Linked DNA regions of Homo sapiens: all the other regions are reported to be linked to region 2. The links are microRNA targets in miRTarBase. Many come from high-throughput screens and were not tested one by one. Region 2 holds a microRNA gene; each other region holds the end of a gene's coding sequence.
The links. Region 2 holds the annotated microRNA hsa-miR-4438 (CACAGGCUUAGAAAAGACAGU, at 2,556-2,576, shown strand). A microRNA usually pairs through its seed, bases 2 to 8, with sites in the 3' UTR of a target mRNA and lowers its output. Matches are read on the target gene's strand: a 7mer-m8 pairs with bases 2 to 8, a 7mer-A1 pairs with bases 2 to 7 and ends in A, and an 8mer does both.

Region 1 (4,092 bases), not on the chromosome of region 2:
AGATCGAGACCATCCTGGCTAACATGGTGAAACCCCATCTCTACTAAAAATACAAAAAATTATCTGGGCGTGGTGGCGTGCGCCTGTAGTCCCAGCTACTCAGGAGGTTGAGGCAGGAGAATCGCTTGAACCCAGGAGGCAGAGGTTGCAGTGAGCCGAGATTGCGCCACTGCACTCCAGCCTGGGTGACAGAGCAAGACTCCACCTCAAAGTAATAATAATAAGCCTCTGACGGACCAGGCACGGTGGCTCATGCCTGTAATCCCAGCACTTTGGGAGGCCGAGGCAGGCAGAGTACCTCAGTTCGGGAGTTCGAGACCAGCCTGGCCAACATGGTGAAACACTGAAAATACAAAAGTTAGCCTGGTGTGGTGACACACACCTGTAGTCCCAGCTTCTTGGGAGGCTGAGGCAGGAGAATCGTTTGAACCCAGGAGGCAGAGATTGCAGTGAGACGAAATCGCCCCACTGCACTCCAGCCTGGGCGACAGAGCAAGACTCTGTCTCAAAAAAAAAGAAAGAAAATTGATGAAGGAGACCAGGTACAGTGGCTCACACCTGTAATCCCAGCACTTTGGGAGGCTGAGGCAGGAGGATTGATTGAGGCCAGGAGTGTGAGACCAGCCTGGGCAACATAGTGAGACCCTGTCTCTGCAAATAATTTAAAAGTTAGCTTTGTGAAGTGCACCTGTAGTCCCAGCTACTTGGGAAGCTGAGGTGGGAGGATCACTTGAGCCCAGGAGGTCGACATTGCAGTGAGGTGTGATTGCATCACTGCACTCCAGCCTGGGCAACAGAGCGAGACCCTGTATCTAAGGAAAAAAAAAAAAAAACGATGAAGGAATGAAAAGATACCCTAAAGCAAGTAATTTTCCTCTCCTGGCCCCAGCTTTCTTATCTGTGAAATGGGGATGATTGTGCCAACCTCACCACGTCACAAGGATGAATAAGGATGTTTAAAAAGAAGAGGCAGGTCATGTGCAACAACATGGATGGAACTGGAATTATAAGTGAAAAAAGCCAGGCACAGAAAGACAAACTTTTTACATTCTCACTTACTTATGGGAGCTAACAATTAAAACAATTGAACTCATGGAGATAGAGTAGAATGATGGTGACCAGAGGCTGGGAAGGGTAGTGGTGGGGGGAAGTGGGTATGGCTAATGAGTACAAAAACATAGTTTTTATTTTTATTTTATTTTTATTTATTTGTTTTTTGAGATGGAGTCTCGCTCTATCGCCCAGGCTGGAGTGCGGTGGCACGGTGTCAGCTCGCTGCAGCCTCTGCCTCCCAGGTTCCAGTGATTCTCCTGCCTCAGACTCCGCGGTAGCTGGGATTACAGGTACATGCCACCATGTCCAGCTAATTTTTGTGTTTTTAGTAGAGACAGGGTTTCACCAATGTTGGCCAGGCTGGTCTCGAACTCCTGACTTCAGGTGATCCGCCCACCTCGGCACTCAGAGTGCTGGGATTACAGGCGTGAGCCACCACATCCAGCCAAAAATGCAGTTAAATAGAATGAATAAGATTTAACATTTGATAGCACAACAGGGTGACTACAGTCAACAGTAATTTATTGTACATTTAGAAATAAAAACGTATAACTGGATTGTTTGTAATACAAATAAAATATAAATGTCTGAGGTAATGGATATTCCCCACCCCCCACAAAATAAAACAGGTGAATTTTTATGGGTTTAAAAAAAAAAAGAGGCAGGACCAAGTGCACAGGAAGACCCCTCAGCCCCCTCTCCATGGGGAGGAAGCTAAGAAACTCATTCTGAAAACCTTCTAAGAACCCTAGGAGGGAGGGATTATCAGTCTCATGTTACTGACTGAGGAGGAAACCAAGGCTCAAGGAGGCCAAGTAACTAGCTCAAGGTCACAAAAGAGAGTTAAGTGACTATGCTTTTTTCTTTTTTTATGAGACGGAGTGTTGCTCTGCCACCCAAGTTAGAGGGCTGGAGTGCAGTGGCGGGATCGTGGCTCGCTGCAACCTCTGCCTCCTGGGCTCAAGCAATTCTCATGCTTCAGCCTCCTAAGTGCTGGGATTACAGGCATGAGCCACCACACCCAGCTAATTTTTGTATTTTTAGTATAGACAGGGTTTCGCCGTGTTGGCCATACTGGTCTCGAACTCCCAACCTCAAGTGAACTGCCTGCCTAGGCCTCCGAAAGTGCTGGGATTACAGGCGTGAGCCACTGCACCCAGCAAAGTGGCTGTGCTTTTTGCTACAGCACAATGATACCCACTAAGCCCTACACCTGCTGAGATTCGGCCTAACATAAACAGTGTCTCTTCCATGAAGCCTTCCCTAATTGCTCCCAGGACATTCCCTGCCTAGCAGTTCCCATCATAGGTTAGGTTACCAGGAGGCAGATTCTGAGATGGAGATGAGTGTGCAGATGTTTATTAGGGGATATTCTTGAAATGGATACCTGTTTGGGGAAGAAAAGGAAGCAGGATTGGGCAAGGGGATAACTTGGCTATGATGTCACAACAGTGTCCTCAATGAAGCCCACAGAGACTGATAAAGTTGGTTTTGACTTTCAGAGTTGTCCAGAGCTGGGGCAAGAGGGAGTCCTTTAAGGCCCCCCAGGAGATGAACTTTGGATACAAGCTGCCCTGAAGGGAGGGCCTTTCCCAGAGAGTGGGGCAAGCTGAAGTCCATCATCCAGTGGCACTCCAGCAGCTGGGGAGAGGGTTGATGGGTTCCCCAGCCAGAAAGGGGGATCTTGGTGGCTCATCACAGTGGCCACTGTGTGCCCAACATAGTTGCTACACATTCATGTTCATCCCAGCCTCCAACATCCATTTTTCAGCCCCTGGGCCTGGTCGGGGGGGCATTGGCCAGCAACCCTGGGTTTGACGTCACATATTAATCCCATGCCCAGAATCATTTTAGCCTGAGGACATAAGAAGCCTCCAAGCCAAGCTCCCCCTGGAATTCCCCGCACCTGCCTTTGCCCATGCATCAGCTTCCTGACGCTGGCTTCTCAGTGTCTGAGCCCAGGAATGCTGCCAGAGTGGCCACATCGCAGCCAAGAAAAAGGGAGTGGGAATGAGAGCTTTTGTCATTCAATTCACAGCGCGGCAGGCTCTGGGTGAGCACATCCTGTCCACTGTCTCATTTGTGGTCACCACCTCCCTTCAAGGTGGGATCTTTTATGAGCCCCATCGATAGATAGGGACACTGAGGCTCAAGGACAGGAAGTTGCACATCTGGTCTCTCAGGCCTTTCTTTTCTTTTCTTTTTTTTTTTTGAAACAGAGTCTCACTCTGTTGCCCAGGCTGGAGTGCAGTGGCGCAGTCTTGGCTCACTGCAATCTCTGCCTCCCAGGTTCAAGCAATTCTCCTGCCTTAGCCTCTGGAGTAACTGGGATTACAGGCATGCACCACCACGCCTGGCTAATTTTTGTATTTTTAGTAGAGACAGGGTTTCACCATGTTGGCCAGGCTGGTCTCGAACCCCTGACCTCAGGTGATCCACTGTCCTTGGCCTCCAAAAATGCTAGGATTACAGGCGTGAGCCACCATGCCTGGCCATCAGAACTTTCTTTTCTGTAGAAAGCCTCGACTCCAAAATCCAGGAAGCATGACTGTGTCAGGATACTGTTTATATGAACCCTTCTGTCATTTGTCCTCCAGAGAGATATTAACACTCCCCATCCCACCAGGTGGGCTAAGGCTGGGACTGCTTTAACCCTTTCTCTCCTAGAGTCAACACTGGCATGGGCCTGAGTGCTGCTTCCTGCTGGGGGACCTGGGGATTTGGGTCTTGTGGATGAGCCGGACACCCCCCCAGCCCTCTTCTAGCTTGATGTCCCCCTGCTGCAGGGCCTGCTGGATAGCATCAGCGAGGGTGTCAAAGGCCAGGTCCACATTGCAGTTGTTTTTAACCGAGGTCTCCACGAAGGCCATGCCCAGGGAGGCAGCTAGCTCCTCGGCCTCCTGGGCTGAGACACAGCGGGTGCTCTGCAGGTCACTCTTGTGGCCAACCAGCAGGAAGATGACCTTGTCCGGGCCCTGAGTGGCCATGACCTCCTGGTGCCAGTCTTGGATGTGTTCAAAGGACTTCCTGTTTGTCACA
Region 2 (4,220 bases):
TCATTTCATTTTAATGTGTTTCATGTACTGTCCTAGGCACAAGGAATAGAATCGTAACAAGGACAGGGTTTGCTTTTGTAGAGCATAGATTCTAATGGAGAAGATAGAAAGTTAAAAAGCAAACAGAAATTTCAAGCTGATGATAATGATGACTGAGATGATAGCTGTCACAGTGAAGATGATAGGCAGTGGACTTTAGTAGATATTAGAAAGATATACCCAAGAGCACTGCATGAGATATGTAACTAATAGAGAGGAATCTGTAATAACTCAAGAAAATAAAGTTCTGTGACCAAATTATTCAGACATATATGATAAAATATTATAAAATAGTAGAAAAGAATATTTGCAGTCCCTGTGGCTGCATTTAACCATCTAAATATATCAATATCTATATACCTATATATGAAAATCCCTATCTAATGAAATAGTTTAAAAATCTTCCCAAGATTATGCAGCTACTTAAATGGCTGAGTAGGACTAGATCTGCAGACCCCTGAGGCCAGCCTCAGATATCAGTCAGAGTGAACATAACAAATCAAAGTAGTGTCCTTCCACAGAGGAGTTAAAATATTTAAACATAAGTAATTTTAGCAATCCAATAGGTGTTAAAAAAAAGAAAAAAGTCTATGGGCCAGGCACGATGGCTCATGCATGTAATCCTAGCACTTTGGGAGGCCGAGGCAGGTGGATCACCTGAGGTCAGGAGTTCAAGACCAGCCTGGCCAACGTGGTAAAACCCCGTCTCAAAAAAATAAATAAATAAATAAAAATTAGCCAGGTGTGGTGGCATCCTCCTGTAGTCCCAGCTATTCGGAAGGCTGAGGCAGGAGAATTGCTTGAACCTAGGAGGCAGAGGTTGCATGCAGTGAGCTGAGATCACACCACTGCACTCCAGCCTAGGTGACAGAAAATAAAAATCTATGCCCAGATAAATCTTTAGACTAATTGAGCAAGGCCTTTGCTTATACATCTTTGGTGTACCATAGGTTTGGATTTGTAGCTGTAGACTTTAACTTTTGCTTGTCTATAGCCACTGCATTACAAAGATGCAAATACCAGACTTTTCCAAACATGTTAATATGGGATCTCTGGGAGCGGGAACCCCCTAAATGGCTAATGTATACCAGGCCAATTAAAATTTAACGGCCTAGGATATGTGTGGGTATGCATGTGTATTTATTTAAAAAGACACTCAAATAGTTTTTTTTTATATGAAGAAAGTAAAGCTTTGACACTGAAATTAAATGATGTAATAACTGTTATATTCAGCTAATATCTCAATGATGGCTTTGAGGCAGTTGATAGTAGATAGCTTTTTTAAAGAAGTGTTTTTGAATGTTTAGCATATGAAACCCTTATGGTGTTGTCTTTATAGAGCAAAGAGGGAATAAAGAAATGGAATGTAAAAAATCCTAAATATTCCACATAAAAAAGCTTACTAGAATTAATAAATGTATTCAGCAAAGTTGCAGGACACAAAATCAATATGCAAATATCAGTTGTGATTTCATATACTAACATAAATCTGAAACGGAAATTTTTAAAAATTGGGTTAAAATAGCATCAAAAATACATAGAAATATAAACTTAACAGGAGACTAAAGACTTGTTCTCTGAAAACTACAAACATTTCTAAAGAAAATAAAGATGGTAATAAATAGACATATATATTCATGAATTAGATGACTTAATATTGTTGTCCATACTACTTAAAGCTATCCACAGGTTAAATACCATCCATATCAAAATACCCATAGCTGTTTTTTTTTTCTGAAATAGAAAAAGCAATTCTAAAATTCATATGCAACCGCAGAGAACCAAAAAGAGCCCAAACAATCTAAAGAACAAGCTGGAGGTCCTGCACTTCCTGACTTCAAAGGATATTACAAAATTACAGTAGTTAAAACATTATGGAGAAATAGTTATAGAAATATGGTGGAGTAGGAAGCACCAGGAATCTGTCTTCCCACCTAGAGAACAATTGTACTGGCAGAATCTGTCTGATATATAACTATTTTGGATTTTTGACATCTACTAAAGGCTTGCAACTTCTAGGGGAAAGCTTGCATGGCGAATTATGATTAATTTCAGTCAATTTCAGCACTTAACCACAGTAGTAGCTACCCATTTCCCACAGTCACCCCTGTAGCAGGCAGCTGTGCACATGTTACTGGAGCAGTCTGCACAGAGCATGCAGGAACCAGAGTGGGCAAAAAAAGGACCTGTCATCCAAATATCGGCAATCTTTGCTCTGATTGCTGATTGCTGTTTCTGGTCACAAAGATGGACGCAAAGAGGTGAGTGGTTATTGTTGCACCTCTATCCATTATTGCAAGCCCCTCCCTGCTGGCTGAAGTGACTTCCAGAAGATTAAAAGGGCCAGTGCCCTTCTCCTACTTTATTTTTCTGTTTTTCCCCCTTTGACAGCTAGACATTAAAAAGTAGGGCATTCAAAGTAACTGCACATATGGTGACAATCAGAAAATGACTAAGTTACTAAGTGTAAACTTAAGGACTGTCTTTTCTAAGCCTGTGCCTTGCCTTTCCTTTGGCACAGGCTTAGAAAAGACAGTCTTTAAGTTTACACTTCAGACTGATTCTTGGCACAGAGATAGCCTACAACAGAATCCTCTTATGACAATATAAAAAGCAAAATCATTGACTGAAGTAACCGCAAACTCTCAGTAAGAGGGAGAATCTAATTTTTAGAGTTACTATGTTATTAGATCCAAAATCACAATTCATACAAAAAATTAAGAAACTATGTCTTGTCCAAAGGAAAATATGAAATCCCTAAAATGACTTGATGGTGGATCTGCTACAGAGGGACTTTAAAATAATTGTGTTAAATGATCAAAGAACTACAGGAAGATATAGAGAAAGTCAAGAAAATGATATATGAACAAAATGAAAAAAATTCAATGGATAGGAAACCTCACAAGAAGTTAAAAAAAATTGGGAGCTGAAAAGTACAACAACTTAAATAAAAAATTTACTAGAGCGATTCAAAGGAAGATTTGAGCAAGCAAAGGAAACAGTCAGTAAACTTGAAGATAGGACAATGGAAATCAAGGAACAGAAGGAAAAAGAATTGAAAAAAGTAAACAGAGTCTAAGGGACCTGTGTGACACAATCAAGGAGTCACAGGAGGAGAGGAGAAAGAGAAGAGAAAACTTGAAGAAACAACGGATAGAACCTTTCCAAATCTGATAAAAGACATTAATATAAACATTCAAGAAATCCAACAGAATTCAAGGAAGATGAACTCAAAAAGACATAAACTGAAATACATTATAATCAAAGCTTTAAAAGGTGGAGACAAAGATAGAATCTTAAAAGCAGCAGAAAAACATCAATATATTACTTATAAGGAATAATCAGTAAGATTATCAGTATATTTCTCACCAGAAACGTTGCAGGCCAGAAGGCAGTGGGCTGACATTCGAAGTGCTAAAGAAAAACAAAAACAGAAAACATTATCAAACAAGAATCTTATATCCAGCCAAACTGTCCTTAAAGTGAGGGCGAAATTAAGACATCCCCAGGAAAACAACAGTTGGGAGAGCTTGTTACCATTGGACCTGACTTGCAAGAAATCCTCCTGCAGAGTGAAATGAGAAGACACTAGACAGTAACTTGAAGTTGTGTAAAGAAATAAAGATCTTAATAAAGGAAAATACATAGAAAATTATAAAAGCTTATATTATTGTAACAATACTTTTTAACTGCACTTTTCGTGTTCTACATGCTTTAAGAGGTTAATATATATATATTTAAATTTGTATAAAAGTTCATATTATGCTTTGTAACTCCAATTTTGTTTTGTACATAATTTAAGAGACTAATGAATTTAAAATACTTACATGTTTATATTTTTGTATAATACATAAAGATATAATTTTGTGACATCAAAAATTGAGAGGGTGGGGGAATGGAGCTTTTGAAGGAGCCGAGTTTTTATATATTATTGCAGTTATGGTGGTACAAATTTAAATTAGAATGTTATATATGCAGGATCTAAAATATAATCCCTATGGTAACCACCAAGAAAATAGCTATATACAAGGAAATGAGAAAGAAATTTAAGCAAATCACTAAAGAAAATAAAATAGACAACTAAATATAAAAGATAGTAATGCAGGAAATGTAGGGAAACATCTATAAGCTATAACGAATTCAAATAGTGGCTGGGCGCAGTGGCTCACACCTGCAATCCC
Region 3 (4,092 bases), not on the chromosome of region 2:
GCCGAGGGCGTGGCGGGAGCCTGTCCTCGGTTTTACAGGCCGGCTGGGGAGCTGCGTTGGAGGAGAGAGCCAGGGGCTGGGGCCCGGTGATGGAGCCTGCCTTGGGGAGTGCATGTGTTGGAGAGAGGTGGGAAGCAGATAGGATAACCCTGACCTGAGCCATGGAGACGCAAGGACAGGACTGGTAGACGGGTCAGTGGGCAGCAACTTAAGACTGACCTCGCTTGAGCCTTTGCCTGCGAACGAGGTATAATACCCACCTCGGGGGCTTGAGGATCAAATGAGGGGCTCCACCCACGGCAAAGTGTCACTAAGCGGGATGGAGGAGGATGCAGGAAGAGGAGTCTGGGAGGACCCGCTCTGAAAAGGATGGAACTCGAGAGCACCATTTTCAGGGACGAAGATAAGCTGTTTATTTGGGGCAGGCTGTGGGGAGAGCTGTGCAGCAAACAGCCACCCGGGGCCCAGGGCAGAGGCCTTCCAGGCTGGCTCGGGCACTTCTGGGTCCCATGTCCCTGGTTTTGCATCATCCATACCAATCACTCCATGTTGCTATGTTCCTTCACCAGAAGACTGGGGGCTCAAAAAGGGCAGGGCAGCCCTCACTCACCAGTCTCCCCAGCCTCACCCAGCTCAGCACAGGGCACCAGGCAGGGGCTGAGAGTGCTGGGGTAGGTGGGTGTGGTCAAACAGCTTGGAAAGAGTTTGGCCTGCTCATTGCATTCCCCTCAGCTCATCCTGGGGATGTCTGCTCATGGGAGAATGGCAGAGGGATCCCCAACAGTCATTCCTGATACTCCTCTCCCTGTATCATGTCAGCACATAGTAGGTGTGGCCTATGTATGGCAGATTCATTTCTGCCCCCAATAGGATTTGCTGTAGTTTGGATGTGTGTCCCCTCAAAATCTCATGTTGAAATGTGATCCCAATGTTGGAAGTGGGGCCTGGTGGGAAGTAATTGGGTCGTGAGGGCAGATCCCTTATGAATGGTTCAGCACCATCCCCTTGGTGATGAGTTCTTGCTTAGTTCACACAAGATCTGGTTATTTAAGAGTCTAAGACCTCCCCTTCTCTCTTACTCCTGCTCTCACTATGTGATATACTGGCTCCCCATCACCTTATGTCATGATCTTAAGCTTCCTGAGGTTGCACCAGAAGCAGATGCCAGCACCATACTTCCTGAAAAGCCTGCAGAACTGTGAGCCAATTAAACCTCTTTATAAATTACCTAGCGTCAGGTATTTCTTCATAGCAATGCAAGAAGGCCTAATACAGAGTTTGACTTCATTTATTTATGCCTTCATTCACCAACTTTCACTGACAGCTACTCAGTGCAGGCCATGTGCCAGGTGATGCTGGGGACAGATGCTGTCCCTGACCTGGAGAGGTCATGGCAGGGGTGCAAGAGCAAGGGCAAGTGCCAAGGGCTGAGGGGCACAGAGGCAGCACCCTCACCAGCCTGCAGTGGGGGTTGGCGGGTAGAAGGCTTCCTGGAGGAGGGACCAGGGTTCCCAATTGCACAGCCAAGTCATGTCTTCTTGCTTGGAACCAGGAGAGGGGAAGGAGGCTCCCCTTAGGATGTGTCCCTAGTTCTTGGGTAGAGAAGGCGCCTCTCTGGAAATACTACTATAATTACCCCTTTTCTTTCTTTCTTTTTTTTTTTTTTTGAGACGGAGTCTTGCTTTGTCGCCCAGGCTGGAGTGCAGTGGCGCGATCTCCGCTCACTGCAAGCTCTGCCTCCCGGGTTCACGCCATTCTCCTGCCTCAGCCTCCCGAGTAGCTGGGACTACAGGCGCCCACCACCATGCCCGGCTAATTTTTTGTATTTTTAATAGAGATGGGGTTTCACCGTGTTAGCCAGGATGGTCTTGATCTCCTGACCTCGTGATCTACCTGCCTCAGCCTCCCAAAGTGCTGGGATTACAGACGTGAGCCACTGCGCCCGACCTCCCATTTTCTTGACTAGATGCCCCACCTACTTTTTTTTTTTTTTCCCTTGAGATGGGAGTCTCGCTCTGTTGCCCAGACTGCAGTGCAATGGCACGATCTTGGCTCACTGCAATCACTGCCTCCCAGGTTCAAGTGATTCTCCTGCCTCAGCCTCCCGAGTAGCTGGGATTACAGACGTGTGCCACCATGCTCAGCTAATTTTTGTATTTTCAGTAGACACAGGGTTTCACCATGTTGGCCAGGCTGATCTCGAACTCCTGACATCAGGGGATCCACCCACCTCAGCCTCCCAAAGTGGTGGGATTACAGGCGTGAGCCACTGCGCCTGGCCTGCCCCACCTACCTTAAGTTCAAGGAGAAGCCATCTCCCCAGGACCCAGCCCCAGGCCTGCACCACAGATGCTCAAAGACTTGGAGGAACTGATGAATTCATTTTAATCACAGAAATTTGCCTGGGCTTGAGCAAACTGTGGGGACTCAATAGATTTGGAGGCCTCCTCTCCCTTCTGAGAGGCCTGCCTGCTTCCTGCCCTGATGAATCCCTAATTTCAGTACAAACTGAGGAACTTGAAAAACATCTGTGCACTGGGACCGCCCCTCACAGGAGGGCTGAAAGCAGCACAGCTGAGTCAGCGGCACATTCAGCAGGCGTTCAGTGGGGAAGCAGGAGACAGAGGCGGCGCTCACAGGACCCGCTCCAGGCTTGTCACAGCCACACATCACAGCACTTTGGGTTTTGCCACAACAGAGCAGCTCTGAGCTCAATCCTTGCACCTCAGAAGTGCATTTATGATTAAAATCATGCTCGACATGAAGCCCTGTTATGATGTGCAGTTTAAAAAGAGAAACGGGTCCAAATCAGCACCAACAGAGCCCCCCAGGGGGCTCCAAGACTCGCCCCAGAGACAGCAGAAGGACCCCATGTGCGCGCTGATCTGTAAGAAGGGTGGTGGATGCAGCAGCAGGGGGCTGCGTCCAAAGGCAGCAGGTGGGGGCCTCTCATAGTGTGACCCTGGGCAGGCCACTCCCCTACCCCGGTACCCTCACCTGAAAAATGGGACAGCAACACAATGAGACAACAGAGACTGTCTAGAATATAAAGAAAAGAATGAAAAGGTCCATCCCAAGGGCAGCCTGGTGGGGACGGGGACAGGCAGTGGGGGGAGGCTGCCTCTGGAAGACCTGTCCCAGCAGAATCAGCCCCCACCTCTGCCCTGCCTTCCAACCTTTGAACCACCAGGCAGTAGACACATTCCCCTGGGAAACAGAATTTGCAAGGCAGGTGGAAAGAGCAGCACTCACACTGGCTGTGACTGCTGAAAAATGCTCATTGGCCCTTCTCGAGGACTGAAAGGAGATTCGGAATCACATTTAAAATTAACCCGTGACCCACTTCCTGTAAAACTGAAGATCACCCTCTAACAGCCCTAACAAACAGGCTCTGGCCGTCTCCTGACCCTAACCCGGTGGAGCAGCTGACTGGACGCAGTGACGCCACCACTGAGGTTCTGCAGGGTGGAGGCGGCCAGGCTGGCTCACTGCATGAGGTGGACGGTAGCTGCCTTGCGGATGAGCCGCTCGGTCAGGGGCGAGTTGGGCTTCAAGGCATCACGCTCCATCAGAAGGCTCCTGTGGAAACAGACACAGAGGTCCTGTTACAGAACCTTCTAGAGGGATGTGGGGCCTGGTGGTCCCTTGGTCCCAAGGCAGAACACAGGCAGGCTAGACTGCGGCACTGAGGGAACAGCAAGGGCCAAGGCCCAGGGGCAGGAGGCCTGGCCTCAGTTTGGGGAGAGGTGAGGATGGGAGGGCACAGACCTCCAGTGCAGGAAGCCACACCCGAGATGGGGCACAACAGGTGGCAGTGGGGAAAACCCAGGTTTGAAGAGAGAAGACCCAGGTACGGTTTGAGGTAAAGACCCTGCTGTGGACTGAATGTCTGTGTCCAGGCTAAATGTATATGTTGAAGCCCAAATGCCCAAGGTGATGGTATTAAGAACAGGGCCTCTTGGAGGTGATTAAGTCATGAGGGTGGGGCCCTTGTGAATGGGATTAGTGCCCTTATAAGAAGAGATAGGTGTGGTGGCTCACCCCTGTAATCCCTGCACGATGGAAGGATGAGGCAGGAAGATTCCTTGAGCC

Region 1: the mRNA of RAB42 is a reported target of hsa-miR-4438. Seed matches in the 3' UTR shown: 7mer-A1 at 3,521-3,527 and 7mer-A1 at 3,386-3,392.
Region 3: miRTarBase lists TTC38 as a target of hsa-miR-4438. Seed matches in the 3' UTR shown: 7mer-m8 at 3,385-3,391.

The regions. Positions count from the first base shown.
Region 1 is chr1:28,593,748-28,597,839 of GRCh38, reverse strand. It overlaps RAB42 (RAB42, member RAS oncogene family), which reads right to left. Exons shown (of 2, transcript NM_001193532.3): 2 at 2,391-4,092. The coding sequence ends at 3,723. Among named protein-coding and RNA genes, the nearest start is that of RAB42, 3.5 kb to the right of the region's middle. RefSeq lists an enhancer at 3,847-4,092.
Region 2 is chr2:213,755,567-213,759,786 of GRCh38, forward strand. MIR4438 (microRNA 4438) reads left to right here and starts at 2,501; the gene lies at 2,501-2,593. All of the region lies in intron 10 of SPAG16 (sperm associated antigen 16), which reads left to right.
Region 3 is chr22:46,292,278-46,296,369 of GRCh38, reverse strand. It overlaps TTC38 (tetratricopeptide repeat domain 38), which reads right to left. Exons shown (of 14, transcript NM_017931.4): 14 at 2,362-3,579. The coding sequence ends at 3,486. It overlaps GTSE1-DT (GTSE1 divergent transcript), which reads left to right. Exons shown (of 1, transcript NR_024009.1): 1 at 1-1,227. Among named protein-coding and RNA genes, the nearest start is that of GTSE1-DT, 2.3 kb to the left of the region's middle.